Regions from separate parts of the Homo sapiens genome. Here region 2 is linked to region 1. A link means that fine-mapping ties the variant in region 1 to the expression of a gene that starts in the linked region. Tissue or cell type: unexposed skin. Region 1 holds a variant in brackets; the other region holds the start of a gene. All regions are shown on one strand. Distances are between the middles of the regions.

The links. PIP is the estimated chance that this variant, and not a neighbour inherited with it, causes the effect.
Region 2: it holds the start of TMEM132B, and the variant in region 1 is fine-mapped to the expression of TMEM132B in unexposed skin (GTEx, PIP 0.99). The same link has a PIP of 0.9 or more in lung and thyroid.

What each region holds. Positions count from the first base shown.
Region 1 is chr12:125,162,373-125,170,696 of GRCh38, forward strand. No RefSeq gene overlaps it. Among named protein-coding and RNA genes, the nearest start is that of TMEM132B, 20 kb to the right of the region's middle. The variant T/C (reference allele first, on the strand shown) is at 3,233.
Region 2 is chr12:125,182,855-125,191,178 of GRCh38, forward strand. TMEM132B (transmembrane protein 132B) reads left to right here and starts at 3,532. Exons shown (of 9, transcript NM_001366854.1): 1 at 3,532-4,012. The coding sequence starts at 3,946. RefSeq lists an enhancer at 2,733-3,266 and a silencer at 3,315-3,524.

The DNA.
Region 1 (8,324 bases):
GCAGACAAAGGGAAGCATGCCACGGAATTCGCCTGATGAGGCCGTCGCTACCACTGCTGCCGGGCAATGGGCGACAGAGCCAGAGAACATCAGAGCTGATCATCACCGCCGCCCTGCTGTCCCTGGATATTCGACATTGTTGCTGACACCGGAATAGCTTCTCCCTGTCTCTGCTTCTTCAGATCAATTGCTCCAGATTCCAAGTCTGGTTGGCCGAGCTCTGTCACAAGCTAATACCCTCATTGGAGGGGTGGCAAGGCATTAAGTGCGTGGATGCTGGAGCCAGACTGGGTTTGAATCCAGGCTCTGCCACATATCTGTGTGAGCCTGGACGCCATGCATGCCTCGGCTTGCTCATCTACAAAACGGGGATAGTGTAGTCATGCCTACCTCTGTGGGGGGAGGGGGCTATGTGAACTAAATAACAGAATATATGTGAAGCGTGTAGAAGAGGTGATGAGTAAGCATTTTAAATTTTAGCTATTACCATTATTATTATTATTATTATTATTATTTTGAGATGGAGTCTCGCTCTGTCGCCAGGCTGGAGTGCAGTGGCATGCTCTCGGCTCACTGCAACCTCCGCCTCCTGGGTTCAAGCGATTCTCCTGCCTCAGCCTCTGGAGTAGCTGGGACTATAGGCGGTGCCACCACGCCCAGCTAATTTTTGTATTTTTAGTAGAGACAGGGTTTCGCCATGTTGGCTAGGATGGTCTCGATCTCTTGACCTCGTGATCCGCCCGCCTTGGGCTCCCAAAGTGCTGGGATTACAGGCGTGAGCTACCGTGCCCGGCCTACCATTATTATTTTAAAATTATTTGGCATTTATTGTGCGAGGCAGCTGCTGTGTCTCATGAAGACTCAGACAGTGGGGGATTCTCCAAACGTACGGAGGGGGACACACAAGACAGGTGTCTACCGCAGCAATTCCCGTTCCTTTTTCTACCACTCAGATTTATTTCTATTTTGAGCCCTGATTCCTCCGTGATTTCAAAAAATCCCAGTCAATCTGGAGTCCTATACCTGTTCCCTAGTGTTGTATTTAAAAGATTAAATTGGAACGTCTTGAAGCAGAGCGTTCACTCTCCAGTTTACTGCAGTCTAGTCCACTCCCTATTGCCCTGCACCGGCCCCATTTCACTCACATACGGCAGTTAGCCTGATTCCCATGGACATTTCATTTTATGATTCCAGAACCTAAGAGCTAGGGTCTTTGAAAAACAAAAAGAAGAAGGCTGGGTGCGGTGGCTCACGCCTGTAATCCCAGCACTTTGCAGGGCCGAGGCGGGCAGATCATGAGGTCAGGAGATCGAGACCATCCTGGCTAACATGGTCAAACCCCGTCTCTACTAAAAATATAAAAAAAGCCGCGCATGGTGGCGGGTGCCTGTAGTCCCAGCTACTCGGGAGGCTGAGGCAGGAGAATGGCGTGAACCTGGGAGGCGGAGGTTGCAGTGAGCTGAGATCGTGCCACTTCACTCCAGCCTGGGCAACAGAGTGAGACTCCATCTCAAAAAAAAAAAAAAGAAAAGAAAAAAGAAAAAAGGAAGCTGAGCGTGGTGGCTCACACCTGTAATCCCAGCACTTTGGGGTGCCGAGGCGGGTGGATCATTTGAGGTCAGGAGTTCGAGACCAGCCTGGCCAACATGGTGAAAACCTGTCTCTACTAAAATACAAAAATTAACTGGGCGTGGTGGTACATGCCTGTAATCCCAGCTACCCAGGAGGCTGAGGCAGGAGAATTGCTTGAACCAGGGAGGTGGAGGTTGCAGTGAGCTGAGATCGCACCACTGCACTCCAGCCTGGGCAACACAGCAAAACTCTATTTCAAAAAAAAAAAAAAAAGAAAAAGAAAGAGAAACAGAAGGATGAAACTTAAAGGCTTTTGTATCTGCTTTTGTGAAAGTCACATCCCTGCCCTGAGCCAGTAATCACAGATCTATTATCTGCTAGACAGGGGGAAAGAATACAAAGCCCACATGATACCACCCAGCCTCATGAGGTTATCAGGGTCTCACACGGGGCCCCAGGGCAGGACACACAGCTTGGCCTCCTGGGAACTGGACAGTCAACAGTACCTGCTGTCTCTTTGCTGCTTTCTCTGGGGCTGCTGGTTTCTTGCCTCTCCTGTCGTCTGTGCCTCTGACTCTTTTCCTTCTCCTTGAGGTTAATTCTATGGGCCTGAACCCATTGCTCCACTCCCTTTGTTGTGAAATGAGTCCCCAAGCAATACTCTGGCGGGCTTCTCATCTGTTTCAGTCGCAGGGATCTTGGGACAGTTAGTCTTTGCCAAACCTCCTACAGGCCAGGGCTTGCTGACCACAGGCATGTCGTGCGGTCCTTTATGGCGGGTATGCTCGCACTGCGTCTGGAGGTTGGGCACTGCCTCTTGGCTTCTGCTCTTGGGAGCTCATATCAATGGTGGGCACACCCCCGATCCATCATACCTAGCCTATAAAGGAGAAAGCCACAGACCTTCTAAGGATGCAGGTGTTCCCCCCATGAATGTATTTCTCAGCTCCTTCATAGAGAAAGCATTTTCTGGGGTCTCCTGGGGGATGTAGTTGGTGGGTGGGTGTGCAGGTTGCCATGGTAAATCCTTTCAACACTCCAATCTCCCTAAGCCTTTGGACTCCCTCCTCCATAGCATGCCAGGGTAGCTCTGGCATCTCTGCTCACTAAACTTAGGCCACCATGGAGTCCTAGTTCCAGCCACCAACCAAGTAAGCTTTGAGAGCCACCTCCAGCTAAGGAAACTAACCCATGATATCCAAAATCTTAGTGCACCTCGGTCAGTGAGTTCAGTCTGCTCCTGTTCTTCTGCCTGCCTTGGTCTGACACCCTCACATACTCCTTAGGTTTCTGCCAATATATATTGGCAAAATCGTGCAGTTCTCTTGGTGTAAAAGCTATCTCATTTGAGGCCATAGTGGGTACTAAAAATCTAAGATTCTACTTATGAGTCTGGTGCCAACAGGTAGTAGTTGTGGTGGGTCTGAAGGAGAATGGGCATCTCCTCACGTGAGATTGTCATACAGTTTTCAAGAAAAGGACAGCTAGTCTCCTTAGACACAACAGAGCAAGCTCCTTCCTTTGGCAACAGAGGCTCAGAGTGACTTGTGGGTTCAAGATTCTCAGTTTCATCTGAGTCCCACCAGATGTCCCCATTCTAAGCTTCAGCATCCCTTTTAATGTCCTACCTTTTTTTTTTTTTTTTGAGATGGAGTCTTGC[T/C]CTATGGCCTAGATTAGAGTGCAATGGCATGATCTCGGCTCATTGCAACCTCTGCCTCCCAGGTTCAAGCGATTCTCCTGCCTCAGCCTCCCAAGTAGCTGGGATTACAGGCACCCACCACCACACCTGGCTAAATTTTGTATTTTTAGTAGAGATGGGGTTTCGCCATGTTGGCCAGGCTGGTCTCAAACTCCTGACCTCAGGTGATCCACCTGCCTTGGTCTCCCAAAGTGCTGGGTTTACAGGCCTGAGCCACTGCGCCTGGCCTTAATGTCCTACCTTTCACATGAGAAGTGTGGTGAGGCTGTGAATCCACCTAGTGTAATTCCATAACCCACACAATTCAATTGTGTTTTTTATTTTCAGTAGCACTAGCCCTGGCTAATGTAAATAAGCCAGGCTACAATAAATAAGAATTTTCACTGAGGGCATCGGGGAAGCTCTTTGGCCCTAGGACTGTGCTTTGATATGAGTTAAGGGACCTGAGATTCTATTTTATTTTCCTGTAGATGCTCCAGTGCACACAGAAGCATCCATCCCACACTGCAGCCCTTGAGGGCATCGTCACGGGCATCATGTCAAGTGCCTCAGCCACCTACCTTCCCAAGGCATGTGCTTCAGTCAGCACTTTGTCAGAATCAACCACAGGTGATGGTGTGGCTGATTCGCTGTGATGGCACTGCATGCTATGGGTCACTGGTGTCCCATTTCACATGGTCAAAATCCCAGCATGGCACTCAACTCCAAAGGCATGACGAGTCTCCAACTCCCACTCCTGGAGGTCTGTATGTATCTAGAACCACTTTCTTAACTAGTTCTGTATCAGCCAGGGTCCAATCAGGAGACCCTGACTGATTCTACATTGGTAATTTGAACTGGGACAGTCCAATATATAGAATTATTGCTGGGCATGGTGGCTCACACATGTAATCCCAGCACTTTGGGAGGCCAAGGCGGGAGGATCACTTGAAGCCAGGAGTTTGAGACCAGCTTGGGTCTCTACAAAAAATAAAAAAACAGTTGGGCATGGTGATGCGTGCCTGTAGTCTCAGATACTTGGGAATCTGAGGTGGGAGAATCGCTTGAGCCTAGGAGACTGAGGATGCAGTTAGTTATGATAGCACCACTGCACTCCAGCCTGGGTGACAGAGCAAGACCCTGTCTCAAAAAAAAAAAAAAAAAAAAGACGACAGGGCTAGGTGTGGTGGCTCACACCTGTAATCCCAGCACTTTGGGAGGCCGAGGCAGGTGAATCACCTGAGGTCAGGAGTTTGAGACCAGCCTGGCCAGCATGGCAAAACCTCGTCTCTACTAAAAATACAAAAATTAGCTGGGCGTAGTGGCACCTGTCTGTAGTCCCAGCTACTGGGGAGGCTGAGGCAGGAGAATTGCTTGAACCTGGGAGGCGGAGATTGCAGCGAGCCGAGATAGCACCATTGCACTCCAGCCTGTGTGACAAAGAGAGACTGTCACACACACATACACACACACACACACACACACACAAAAGACAAGACAACAAAAAAAGAATTATTAACTAGTAAGATGTGCTTAACTTACTAATGGAGTCAAAGAGGACTCTAAGGGGTCTAGAAATATTAGGTATAAAAAAGTTACTACTGCCAGGTGTGGTGGCTCACACCTGCAATCCCAACACTTTGGGAGGCCGAGGCGGGTGGATCACAAGGTCAGGAGTTCGAGACCAGCCTGGCCAACATGGTGAAACCCCGTCTCTACTAAAAATATGAAAACTAGCTGAGTATGGTGGCACATGCCTGTAGTCCCAGCTACTCGGGGGGTTGAGGCAGGAGAATCGCTTGAACCTGGGAGGCAGAGGTTTCGGTGAGCCGAGATTGTACCACTGCGCTCTAGCCTGGGCAACAGAGGGAGACTCTGTCTCAAAAAAAAAAAAAAGTTATTACTCCCTCTAGACTGAGGGGAAATGGAAAGTGAAGAATATAGAACTATTCTAGTCCCTGAGACCAAGAACCAGCCCTCTCCGAAGAGAATGTAGCTACTACAAGAACATGCAGTTTGCTGGATGAGGACACTGTCAGACGACGAAGCCTGCAGCTAGTCCATATACACCATCTGCTATTGCCAGAGCATGTGAGTGGCCACAGCTGTTCTCTAAGAAATGCCCACCAGGTGGGGAGAGCATGGTTCAAGGGCAGAGTCAAAGGTGGTTGGTTGAAGCTGCTTGCTGGGTGGGGCGAGGATGGCCTGAGGGGATGGCTGGAGCTCCTGCAGAAGTGGCCACTGGGTGGGGACAGTGTAGCTGAGGGTCCCTCAAGGCTACTGTGGAAATGGCCACCAAGTGAGGAGAGCATGGCCTGAGAGGGTCACAGAAGCTGGCCTGAGAGCTGCTGGTAGAAGAGCTGCTTGCAGTAGGAGAGGAGGACAGGAACCCAGAGTGGATTGGCTCTCCTGCTGTATAGCTGCACAGTGTAACCCATGCCTTCTACGGACAAAGCCGAACATTCTACCAGCTGGCAAAGGAGAAATGTTTCCAGGGGTCAGCTCCAGGATCACCAAACATGGCAAAGAAGGATGGGTTTGGAGCCGAGTGACAATAAATTGACAAGTGGAACAGGAAGAAGGACCCAAGAGGCTGGGAGGAGAGGTTTGGGGAGAGTTTGGAGAAATTAGAGGAGGTATGGAGTGTGAAGGACATGGATCAGGGAGGGGAGGAGAATTTTAAGAAATATTTCTGTGGACCATGTGTTGCCTTTATAGCATTCAAGAAATGCAAATAAGGGGCCGGGCGCGGTGGCTCAGGCCTGTAATCCCAGCACTTTGGGAGGCCGAGGCGGGCGGATCACGAGGTCAGGAGATCGAGACCATCCTGGCTAACACAGTGAAACCCCGTCTCTACTAAAAATACAAAAAATTAGCCGGGCATGGTGGCAGGCGCCTTTGGTCCCAGCTACTCGGGAGGCTAAGGCAGGAGAATGGCGTGAACCCGGGAGGCGGAGGTTGCAGTGAGTCAAGATCGCACCACTGCACTCTAGCCTGGGCGACAGAGCAAGACCCCATCTCAAAAAAAAAAAAAAATGCAAATAAGGACCGTAAGTTACGTTGGAGTTCCCTTTTGGCTGAGGGACAGTGTTCATTGACCACAACACTACTTCGAGACTGGAATACTTGGGTCCTGGGTTTCTAAGTGGGTTATGACAGTTTTCTCTTAGCCTAAAGCAGAAATTTACAACGAAAGTTTTTCTTTTTAGGTTTATTAGAGCTGCCCCAGGGATCTTGTTTTATATTATGGGTTCTTGTCTCTCTGTAAGTTGCATTGGAAATTTGGAAGTCCAGGTTTTAGTATTTATTTATTTATTGAGACGAAATCTTGCTCTGCCACCCAGGCTGGGGTGCAGTGGCATGATATAGCTCACAGCAGCCTTAACCTCTTGGGCTCAAGTGATCCTTCTGCCTCAGCCTCATAGGTAGCTGGGACCACAAGCATGCACCATCATGCCCAGCTAATTTTTATATATTTTTTGTAAAGATGGGGTCTCACTATATTGTCCAGACTGGTCTTGAATTCCTGGGCTCAAGTTTTCCTCCCACCTTGGCCTCCCAAAGTGCCGGGATAACAGGCGTGAATGCCTGTGCCTGGCCCAGGTTTTAGTTCTGAGTTTCAAGTTTCATTGCATGGTGTGATGCTGGGGCAGGTCACTTAATCTCTCTGAATCTCAGATTTTTTGCCTAACGTGGGGGATATAAAGTCTGCCCATGCAAACTCTCAGGGGATATTGCCATGATGAGGTTGGATAATGGGTATGCAATTGCTTTGGGCAAAAGACAGTTTTCATTCACTTAAGCGAAGCTGTTTGTACCCATACAGTCAGCATATTAGCAAGAAATGTTTTTGCTTGCAAACACCAGGAAACCCCACCACTGTGGAGTAGTTAGGATTTATTTTTCTCATATACCAAGAATTCTAGAGGTGGTTATTTATGGGTAATGATAAAGCTGCTTAGTGACATAAGGACCAAAAATCTCTGTGATTCTCTTGCCCTTCTCCTCATGGTCACAAAATGATTGCTGTGACTCCAGCCATCAAGGCTACATTTAAGCAGGAAAAAGGGATAGGTCCTGGTCAGGCACCGCTGTTCTTTTTTTAGGTAGCCTTGCTGGCTGTCTGCCAGGGCTGCTTTTAGCTCCTAGAGGCCCCCTACGTGTCTTCTCATTGGGCTCCTCCATCTTCAGAGCCAGCAGCAGAGATCCCCAGATGATCTCCAGACTGTTTTATTTCATCTCACGGGACAGAAGTAGAACTGCAAGAGAGTCTGCGGCAGGGGGTATTTAGCTTTCCCACCCCTTCTAGAGCGAGGAGGCAAGGGAGAAAGAAAGAAGTTGGGAACGGGTGTTGGATTAGACAGCTGACAGTGTCGGGAATAGCTGGCAAGTTCTAGATGGCAGCAGCTGAGACTGTTGGGATGGCGGGGAAGCAGCCGCTGGAGGATTTTGACTCCCACCCTTGTAACTGCTGCTCCTGTGTATCTGAGCCCTTTCATGGGGCCTGGCTGCATCTGAATAGCGAACATTTCACTTCGGAGGTGGAATTATATTAAAAATCAGATGCTTGTCATTATGCAAATGGATGTCTCACTATTGCTTAGGATTTTCATTTTTCTATGAATTATTCCTTTTTTCAGTGCTTTTTTTATTCCCCATGGAAGAAATAAAAACAACCACTGGCTGATCAAAGGAATTTTCCAGTCATTCAGTCAACAGATATTTCCTGAGTGTCTGTGCTGGGCCAGGAACTGTTCTAGTCTCAGGGAAATAGTGATGAAAAGACAGTTTCTGCAGCAGTAGAGCTTGTATTCCAGGGGAGGAAATAAGCCATCAAGTGAATTAATAAATCAAATAACTTAGGAGAATGACACATGCTATAAAGACAGTAAAACATGGTAGATCACTAGCTTCATGGGTGGGAGGTCTTCTTTAAATGGGGTGGTCAGACAAGGTCTCAGAGGAGGCAGTATTTCAGGAGAAGCCTTAAAGGTGAGAGGAAGCTAGCCATGCAGCGATCTGGGGGAAGGGTGTTCTGGGCAGAGGGAACAGCGAGTGCAAAGGCCCTGATGTG
Region 2 (8,324 bases), 20 kb after region 1:
GATATGGATGACTGCAAGTTGCCATAAAGAGGCTCCTTCCTTCCATCATGGGTCCATATGTCCAGGTGTGCAAGTAACTGATTTCTTGAAATTCTTTATTCTTAGTAAATCCTTGATTACCTGTATAAGTGAGCTTGGCTTCTATTTTGAGAGGCCCCTTTCCCCTACCACTCACCTGTGGTGCAAATGCAATCTAAGTCAATTCTGTGTTCCCTGAACATGCCAGAAACATCGATGTGTGCAATGGACAACAAACAGTCCCAGGCTTTGCAAAGAATTTCAACGGGTGGTCACCACGGCAGCAGCTGCCTGCGTGTTGGCGTTCAAGGGCAAAGGGGTCTGTTATTGCCGCTGCCAGTTGGCTGAGGTGGGGAAACCTCTCTGCCTATTCGCCTCCATCTCACCCCTACCCGCACCCCCACCCTGACCTTCCTTCTGCAGCGCCCTCCAGACCTGCAGTTCCAGTTTCAGCCACGAGATGGCAATGTTGCTCTTCGCCGGTAGCCCGGCGGGCGCGTGGGCTGAGCTGCAGCAGAACTGGGGTGCGGGGACGGACCGGGAGCAATCCGTGCTGGAGGCAGTCTCTTGCTGTGCAGGGGGTGGTGCGGCCTGAGGAAGCCTTGCATGGCTATGCTGGGGCTCGAGGCTGGCTGTTAGTCGAGTCGGCCTCCCCACACTTACAGATCCAGGAGAAGGACAATTCCTGGACTCAGTATCCCATCTATACTTAGGGGGAGATTGTAGGCTGTGTAATTCTTACGGTCCTGCCCAGGCTATGAGGCCAGCAGGCTGGGGGCGAGAGTCTAGGTAGGAGTGAGAGGAGAATTCCGCTCAGCCCTGGGGTCTCCTCGTTACTGCCGCCAGCCTCTCAGATTCCCCCCCGCCCTTCAGAATCCAGGGAGGCTTTTTTCCCCTGCTTATTTCCTCCAGAAACACCCCCTTTAGAGATACAGGCTTAGGGGCATGGTTAATATGCAGAAATCCTCATCCAACCACAAGACAGGCTGAGCCAGGCTGGAATTCTCATCCCTACCCCACGTATGAGCTCAGAGAGGATTAGGGGCTTGTCCAGAGTCACACAGCTGGGGCATGGAAAAGCTACCCTCAAAAGGAGATTCCTCTCTTCAGCGTCTGGCTCAACCACCATCAGCATATTTTAATGGGGAAGTGCCCTTCCCCACTGAAAGGTGCTTTCTTGGAGTATGACCAGGTAGTCCTGAGTGTGGGGTTGGGGGGAAGGCAACTGCCATCTGCCATCACACCTGGGACTGTGTGACCACTGGCTTGGGGACTTGCTGGACTGATTCACAACCCTCTCCAAGCACCGCCACTAAAGCCACAGAATGACCCCTTACCCTGCCAGAAAATGACTTTTATCTTTGGCCACAGTCTCCCAGCCTCACTGACCTGCTTCCTGGTCAAACACACGGTTCACCTTGGCACCAGCACCCCGCGGTCACTCCTGCTGTGGCTCTCCCCTGCTGTCGTCCATTCATTTCTGCTTCACCATCCCCTGCAGAGGCCGGCACACAGTAGGTGCTCAGCTCTGCAGATGCTTATGAACAAGTGAACAGGAAAGAGGTGTTGGGGGCAGCCGGGCACAGAGGACCCTAAGAGAGTCCTGACCACGTCTCCAGGATCATCCTCTTATCTGGGGAAAGGGTCACAGAAAGGGGACAGATGGGCCCCTCGCAAGGCCACCCTAAGCCCGAGGAGACCCCCAATCCCGTCGTCCAGCCTGTTGTATGGCTCTCCACACATTGCAGGCCTTGCCAGGGAGCCCAAAGGGGGCTTGGCCTGGGCATGGGCCCCTTGTAAAGGAAGCCGATTAACAGCCACGGGAAAATCCCTTTACGTCTCCTAATTAACCTGGGCTGGAGACTCACCACCTGCCCCTGGCTTTCTTCCTTCTTTTATCTAGGAAGAACTGAGTGCTGCCTCTGCTAATGAGCTTGTCTGTACTAATCAAGCAGGTGCCCTGTCCCCCATCCCCTCTTGGCAGCCGGGAGTGGGGAGGATTGTCCTTCTGATGTGAGCTCTGGGCCCGCAGAGGAAAATCAGATCTATCATAATAATGGCCATGATGATGAGAATGATAATGTTGACACTGACTCCTTTAAATGAGTTCCGACTTCCTAGGTCAGGGGCTTTGTATGTGTTATTGGGGACACCAGGTGATGTGCAATGCCTTCCATCTCTCAGATGAGAAAACTGAGGCTCAGGGAGGAATAAGGGACTCGCCCCAGCTTGCACAGCTAAGGAGCGGCAGAGCTGGGATTCTCAGCCAAGACTCCATGACTCCAGAGCCTTCCCCAAATCTGTCTTTTCATCACCCCACGCTGCCTTATTGACCATTTTCAAAGAGTTTGACCCACTTTTTCATGGAAAACTGAGATGGCAGAGCAAGTGGCTGGTGTGGTGGGGGCTGGGGCGGAGCCAGGACTCCAAGCCACCCTCCCAGGTGGGCAACCCCCCATATCCCCTGTCCTCCCAGCGTGGTGGGGAAGCTTGAAGGCATCTGAGCGCTGCTGGAGGCTCCCCCACATGCTCCCAGCATGACTCATTCATTCGGCTTAGCCCCCCGTGGCTTTGCCCTGGTTGGGGGTGGGGCGCCCAGGAGGATCAGTGGTTTCTGGGATAATAGGTACTGGGGCTCCGTGTGACCTGTGACCTCCCTCCGCACTCTGGCTGCGTCCCTGCCCCTGGATGGAAGAATTCGACCACCTAGTACCCGGCCCTGCGCAACACCTCCGCTCCGTCACTGCCTGACCCTGCGCTGGGAACTCATTCCCGGGACCGCCAGGGAATCTGCCCTTCCCAGGAGAACTCCTGGCTGCCTCCGCGTGCTCCTAGGGCCTGCGCGAAATGGGAAGGCGCATCCTCTAGCCTGGGTAAATAAGGGACCCTGCCTCACCCGGGTGGCCATCCCCAGGCCGCCTTCGCTGTGTTTCAGGTCACCGCACCCAGCCTGCGCACCCCTAGCCCCCATCCCGGTGCCGTGCAGAGGCTCTGCACACAGCCTCGGCCTCCCGGAGGCCCTCCCCTCTCTCCTCTCCCCTCTCCCACAGGCACTCCCTAGCTGTGCCACATTTAACCCGGGACCTCCTGTCCGCGCTCAGTCTTGCAGTCTCTGGCCCCGGCAGACACCACCTCTCCAGAGGTCGCTGCCCCATCCCGGTGACCCTCCGCTGGCCTCCTCACCCCTCGACCTTGGCAACTCCTACCGCTGCGCCCCAAGACGCCGGATCTAGCTGGGCATCCCCTCTCTGCATTGCGCACCCCTCCCGCAGCCCCTGTACCCGCGAGCGCCCGCGACCCCCGGCGGGCTCCCGGAGCCTCCCGGCCGGGCGCCCTCCCCCGAACCGCCGAGCAGTGGCGCGTCCCGCCGCCTACTGGCCGGGCTGCCGCCTGTGCCCCGGCTCCCGGGCGGCCCCTCCCCCGGCCGCGGCCCCGCCCTCCGCTCCTCTCCTCCTCCTCCTCCTCCTACTCCTCCTCCTCCTCCTCCTCCCCCCGGCGCTCGCTCGCTCGCTCACTCTCTCGCTGGCTCGAGGGGCGGCCGGCAGATGGCGATGGCAGAGGCGGCGGCGGCGGCGGCGGCGCGACCGGGATGGGACGGGCGCTGGGGCGCAGGAGCCGCGGCGGCGGCGGCGGCGGGGGCCGCGCAACTCGGGCCAACTGCGGGGCAGCCGGCCAGGGCGCGGGGCGCTGAGCCTCGGCCGCCCCAGCTCCCCAGCCACGCACGGCCGAGCCCAGGAGAGCGCGCAGAGGCGCAGCCGAGGAAGCGCCGCCAGCGCCGGCGCATGCGTCTGGGGAGGAGCGGCGCGCTGGGAGCGAGCCATGCCCGGCGCCCGGGCGTAGCCGCCGGGGGCTGCTCCGGGAGCCGCGGGCCGGGCCGGGCGCGCGAGAGGAGCAGCCCCGCGCCGCACCCACCGCGCGCCGAGGACCATGCCGCCCCCGGGCCGGGCGCCGCCGCTCGGGCTCCTGCTGGCGCTGACTGCGCTCCAGTGCCCAGGTAACGCGTCCCCGGACCCCATCCCCGACCCCGGCCGAGGCGCACAAAGTTGGGTGAACGGGCGGCTACCTCCTTCTCAAGTCCCTGGCAGCGCGCATCTCCCGGACTTGGACAGACCTGGGGAGACCCTGGGAACCCAGGAGCCCCCGGCGCGTTCCCCTTTGCCTAGCGCCTGGGGAGAGCCCGCCTGCCTTCTCCCCCAAACCCTTAGCTTCCTTGCGGATCCTTTCGGGACGCACGGGGGCCACAGACCGGGGCACTCAGCCTCTCGAGGCGGGTGGGGACGCGACTGCAGGAATCGAGCCCCCTCCCCGCCCTGCCTTGGGCCAAATCCCCCCCAGGTCCCAGTTCCTCCAGGGGTTTTGCTGGGCGGGGGCGTCGACGCAGCCCTTCTCCAGTGTCTTGCTGCCCGCGGTCGCACAGTGGTGCGTTCCCGGGACACCTGCGGGCCCCGGAGATGTCTCGGCCGGCGCTGTCTGGCTTGTCCGCAGCCCCTCCCCACGCCCCGCGGCCCTCCCCTGCTTTCACACTGCCCTCCCCAAGCTACCCACCCTCGCCAAATGGCCTCCTCTTGGCCAAAGAGCAGCCCGCTGCGCGCCTCCTGCAAACGCGGTCTACTCCAGCGCCCTGACCCCAAGGCGGGCGGGAGAGGGTAGCCGCGGCCAAGCAGTCCAGGACGCGCCGGGGAGCCTGGAACGCGGTGCTGTCCAGAGCCATTGCCTGGGCACCGGGGAGCTGGACTCCCTGCTGAACCAGCTCAGCTGTCGCCCAATCCTAGTGAGTGGGAAAAGCAAAATAGTCAGGTATTGTCTGTCTTCGCTGGAGTTTGGAAAGCTTTCTACCCACCTTGGTGTGGCTACATGTTGGTTCTATAGAAAGCGTATCCTAAAATGACAATTCCTCCCCTCCCCCCACCCCATGCAAGCAGTGGAGAAAATCCTAAAGGCTCAGATGAACCCCGGGAACAGTCACGAGCAGCCTTCATGTGCTTTTGAAATCTCAGTTCTCCAAACCTTTTAAAATCAAGACCCATGATTTGGGAACAGGTAGCTTTTGCTTTAGAAAATCTCTCCCCATTTCCTTAACAAACAAATCGCACAGACAGGCAGAATGCAGTAGAAAAATACAACTATAACTTTTCGGCTTTCACTGTCTTGGTAAGGTTGCAGTTAGGAGCAAACCTGGCATGTCAACTTGATGTTCGATGTATTTTATTTGCATGGAAAAAGTCAGTGTCGGCTTCCTTTGAGATGCCCTTAAGTGACCCAAAATATTTACCAACACCTTCGACTTGAAGAAAACCTTCTATTGGAGATCTCCGTCAGCGTTCGGCTTTGGTTCAGCCTAGAGAATGGCATTGGGCTTAACGTGGATGAATCTTGCCTGCTTGGCTAAGGAGCAGCTATGATAGCTGTTTTGCTTTCGGCATTCCTCTGCGGTCCACGAGAGGGGCTGCTGCTGGGGCCGAGGCTGTTTTCTCTTAGCTGAAGCCCTGGGACCTGTTTGCAAAAGTGCAGTCCCTCGGACTTGAAAATTGCAGTTTTGTCTCTATTTTGTTTCTCCACGGGGGTCAGCATTTGCCTGGATGTGCTTATAAGTGAATATCGGAAGTCTCTCAGAGAAGCTGCCTGCATAATGCTTTGTAAGAGAATAGGATGGTCCCCCTACCACCCCCCCACCCCCGTCCCCCGCCCTCTCCCCCAGCAACAGAAGAGCCTGTGCCTGGCTCTGGAAGGCCCCATGTTGGGAGGGAAGGTGAGCTCCCACTGAAACCTGCTGCTGGCCGGCTCTTTGCCTGCTCCCCTGCTGTTCTTTGGGAGAGTCTCAGCAGGGCAGCTCGTTCCGACAAATGCCGTCCGGGCAGAGCCCCCAGTGCCATCGCCCCGTCCCTGGAAGCACATGCAAGTCTTTAACTGGTCCCTACCAGGGACATAAAGAGACGACAGTTTGATAACTCTATATTTAGCACTAGTTAGGAGGGATGGCAAAAAAAAAAAAAAAAAAAAAGAAAAAAAGAAATTCCTGAAAGATACTTAGCTGCCTACACTTGGTTTTGAGAGGTTCAGAGGAATTAACCAGAGCTTCCTTCAGGGCTGGTTGGATTTTCTGGGTGATTTCTGCCATGGTTTACCGACCCCCTTTGGCTGAGGCTCTGGAAGAGGGGCTGGAAGAGTTCAGAGGCAAAGATGCGCACACTGTCTCCCATCACACACACGCAGGGACTGGCTTCTTTGTCCCCCACCCCCCTTCCTGCGTGGGTAGCTGCCATGGTAAAGAGTAGGGTGGGTGTACTTCTTTCAGCCTTGCAAGTGCTTAAACATATGGAACTGTACTTGGTAAGAGTCAGCACAAATCCCCCAGCTTAGCGACTAGGGGGCCCCTATTATTCGAGCCACTTTTGTACATGCTGTGGCTTTGCAAATTAGCGGTGCAGTTACAGTCCCTGCTGAGGAAAATGAACGAATCTTGCTTCGTTGACTCATTATGCACGGGGGTCTAGGGTCTATGAAATCAGGGTGGGTGGAGCACCCCCACCTGCCCCACGACAGAGGGGCCACATTGAGTGGCAGGGGGGAGCTTTGGCTTTCAGGGCAGAGGCTCTCTTCCTCCTGCCTGGCACCTTGGTGTGGCATGTGGTATATTTCTCATTACAATAGTGATGGGGGGGGTGCCTGTGTGTGGCGCTGCCCTTCAGAGAGGTGGCATTGGGAAGTGGTGGGGAGTGGTATGCAAATGTCGTCGCCTTCTCCAGTGATTTAATGGCTGCACAGTGGAGGTTCCCAGAGTAAATCATTTCATCCCCTCTCCTCCCACCGGATGCAGGGAGTTGGGGAGGCGTGGGGCTTCTGCATGAGCTACTGCACTCAGAGCCAACAATGAGCACGGTGGTTGCCTTGATCCAAGGGAGCAAAAGAAAACCCTCATTTGTTGGCTGGGAGTCTGGGGTGGGGGTGGTCTCTGGGCCGGCAAAGCCCTTTCAGGGGCCTTGTTCCCAGATGCGTCTCCCAGCTCTATGTGGCTGGGTGGCTCCTTTCTTCTCTTCTGTGTCTCAATTTGAATGGGGATGGAGGGGGTCCATTTCCCCTGAAGCCATGGGACTCAGCAATCACTGTGGCGAGATGGAGGCACCCTGGTACCGTGGGTGACGGGGGTGCTGCCAACTCTTCAGCAGAGTAGGTGGGTTGACTTCTAGAGCAAGAGGGTGCCTCAGAGCCCCTCCTTCAGCAGCCCCCGGCAGATGGGAAGGAGACTTGGGCACAGGGACCGCCTGTTCAGGGTCACACAGTGAATTGGAGGCCTGGGCTCCCCTCTCCTTAACTCCTCACCTATGACTTTCTAACCCTGTACCTGGGAGCTCTTCTGGTAGAGGAGTTCTACCATACAGTCCTTTAGGGAACTGTGACTCCATACAAGGATCCCAAGGTCATGAGAATGACAGCCGCCTGGCCTGGCCAAGACAGCCAGTGTCAAATCCGAAAGTTAGAGAGCAAGTCTTAGTGGTGATGGTGATGGGAAAGGGGTGGTGATGGGGATGGGAAAGGGGTGGTGATGGGAAGAGGTGGTGATGGTGATGGGAAGGGGTGGTGATGGGGATGGGAAAGGGGTGGTGGTGGGAAGGGGTGGTGATGGTGATGGGAAGGGGTGGTGATGGTGATGGGGAAGGGGTGGTGATGGTGATGGTGATGGTGATAGTGATGGTGATAGGGAAGGGGTGATGATGGTGATGATGGGGAAGGGGTGGTGATGGTGATAGTGATGGTGATGGTGATGGGGAAGGGGTGGCGATGGTGATGGGGAAGGGGTGGTGATGGGGAAGGGGTGGTGATGGTGATGGGGAAGGGGTGGTGATGGTGATGGCAAGGGGTGGTGATGGTGATGGGGAAGGGTGGTGATGGGAAGGGGTGGTGATGTTGATGGGAAGGGGTGGTGATGGTGATGGGGAAGGGGTGGTGATGGTGATGGGGAAGGGTGGTGATGGGGAAGGGGTGGTGATGGTGATGGGGAAGGGGTGGTGATGGTGATGGGGAAGGGGTGGTGGTGGTGATGGGGAAGGGGTGGTGATGGTGACGGGGAAGGGGTGGTGATGGGGAAGGGGTGGTGGTGGTGATGGTGATGGTGATGGGGAAGGGGTGGTGATGGTGATGGGAAGGGGTGGTGATGGTGACGGGGAAGGGGTGGTGGTGGTGGTGGGGAAGGGGTGGTGATGGTGATGGGGAAGGGGTGGCGATGGTGATGGGGAAGGGGTGGTGGTGATGGTGACAGTGACGGGAAAGGGGTGGTGATGGTGACAGGGAAGGGGTGGTGGTGGTGA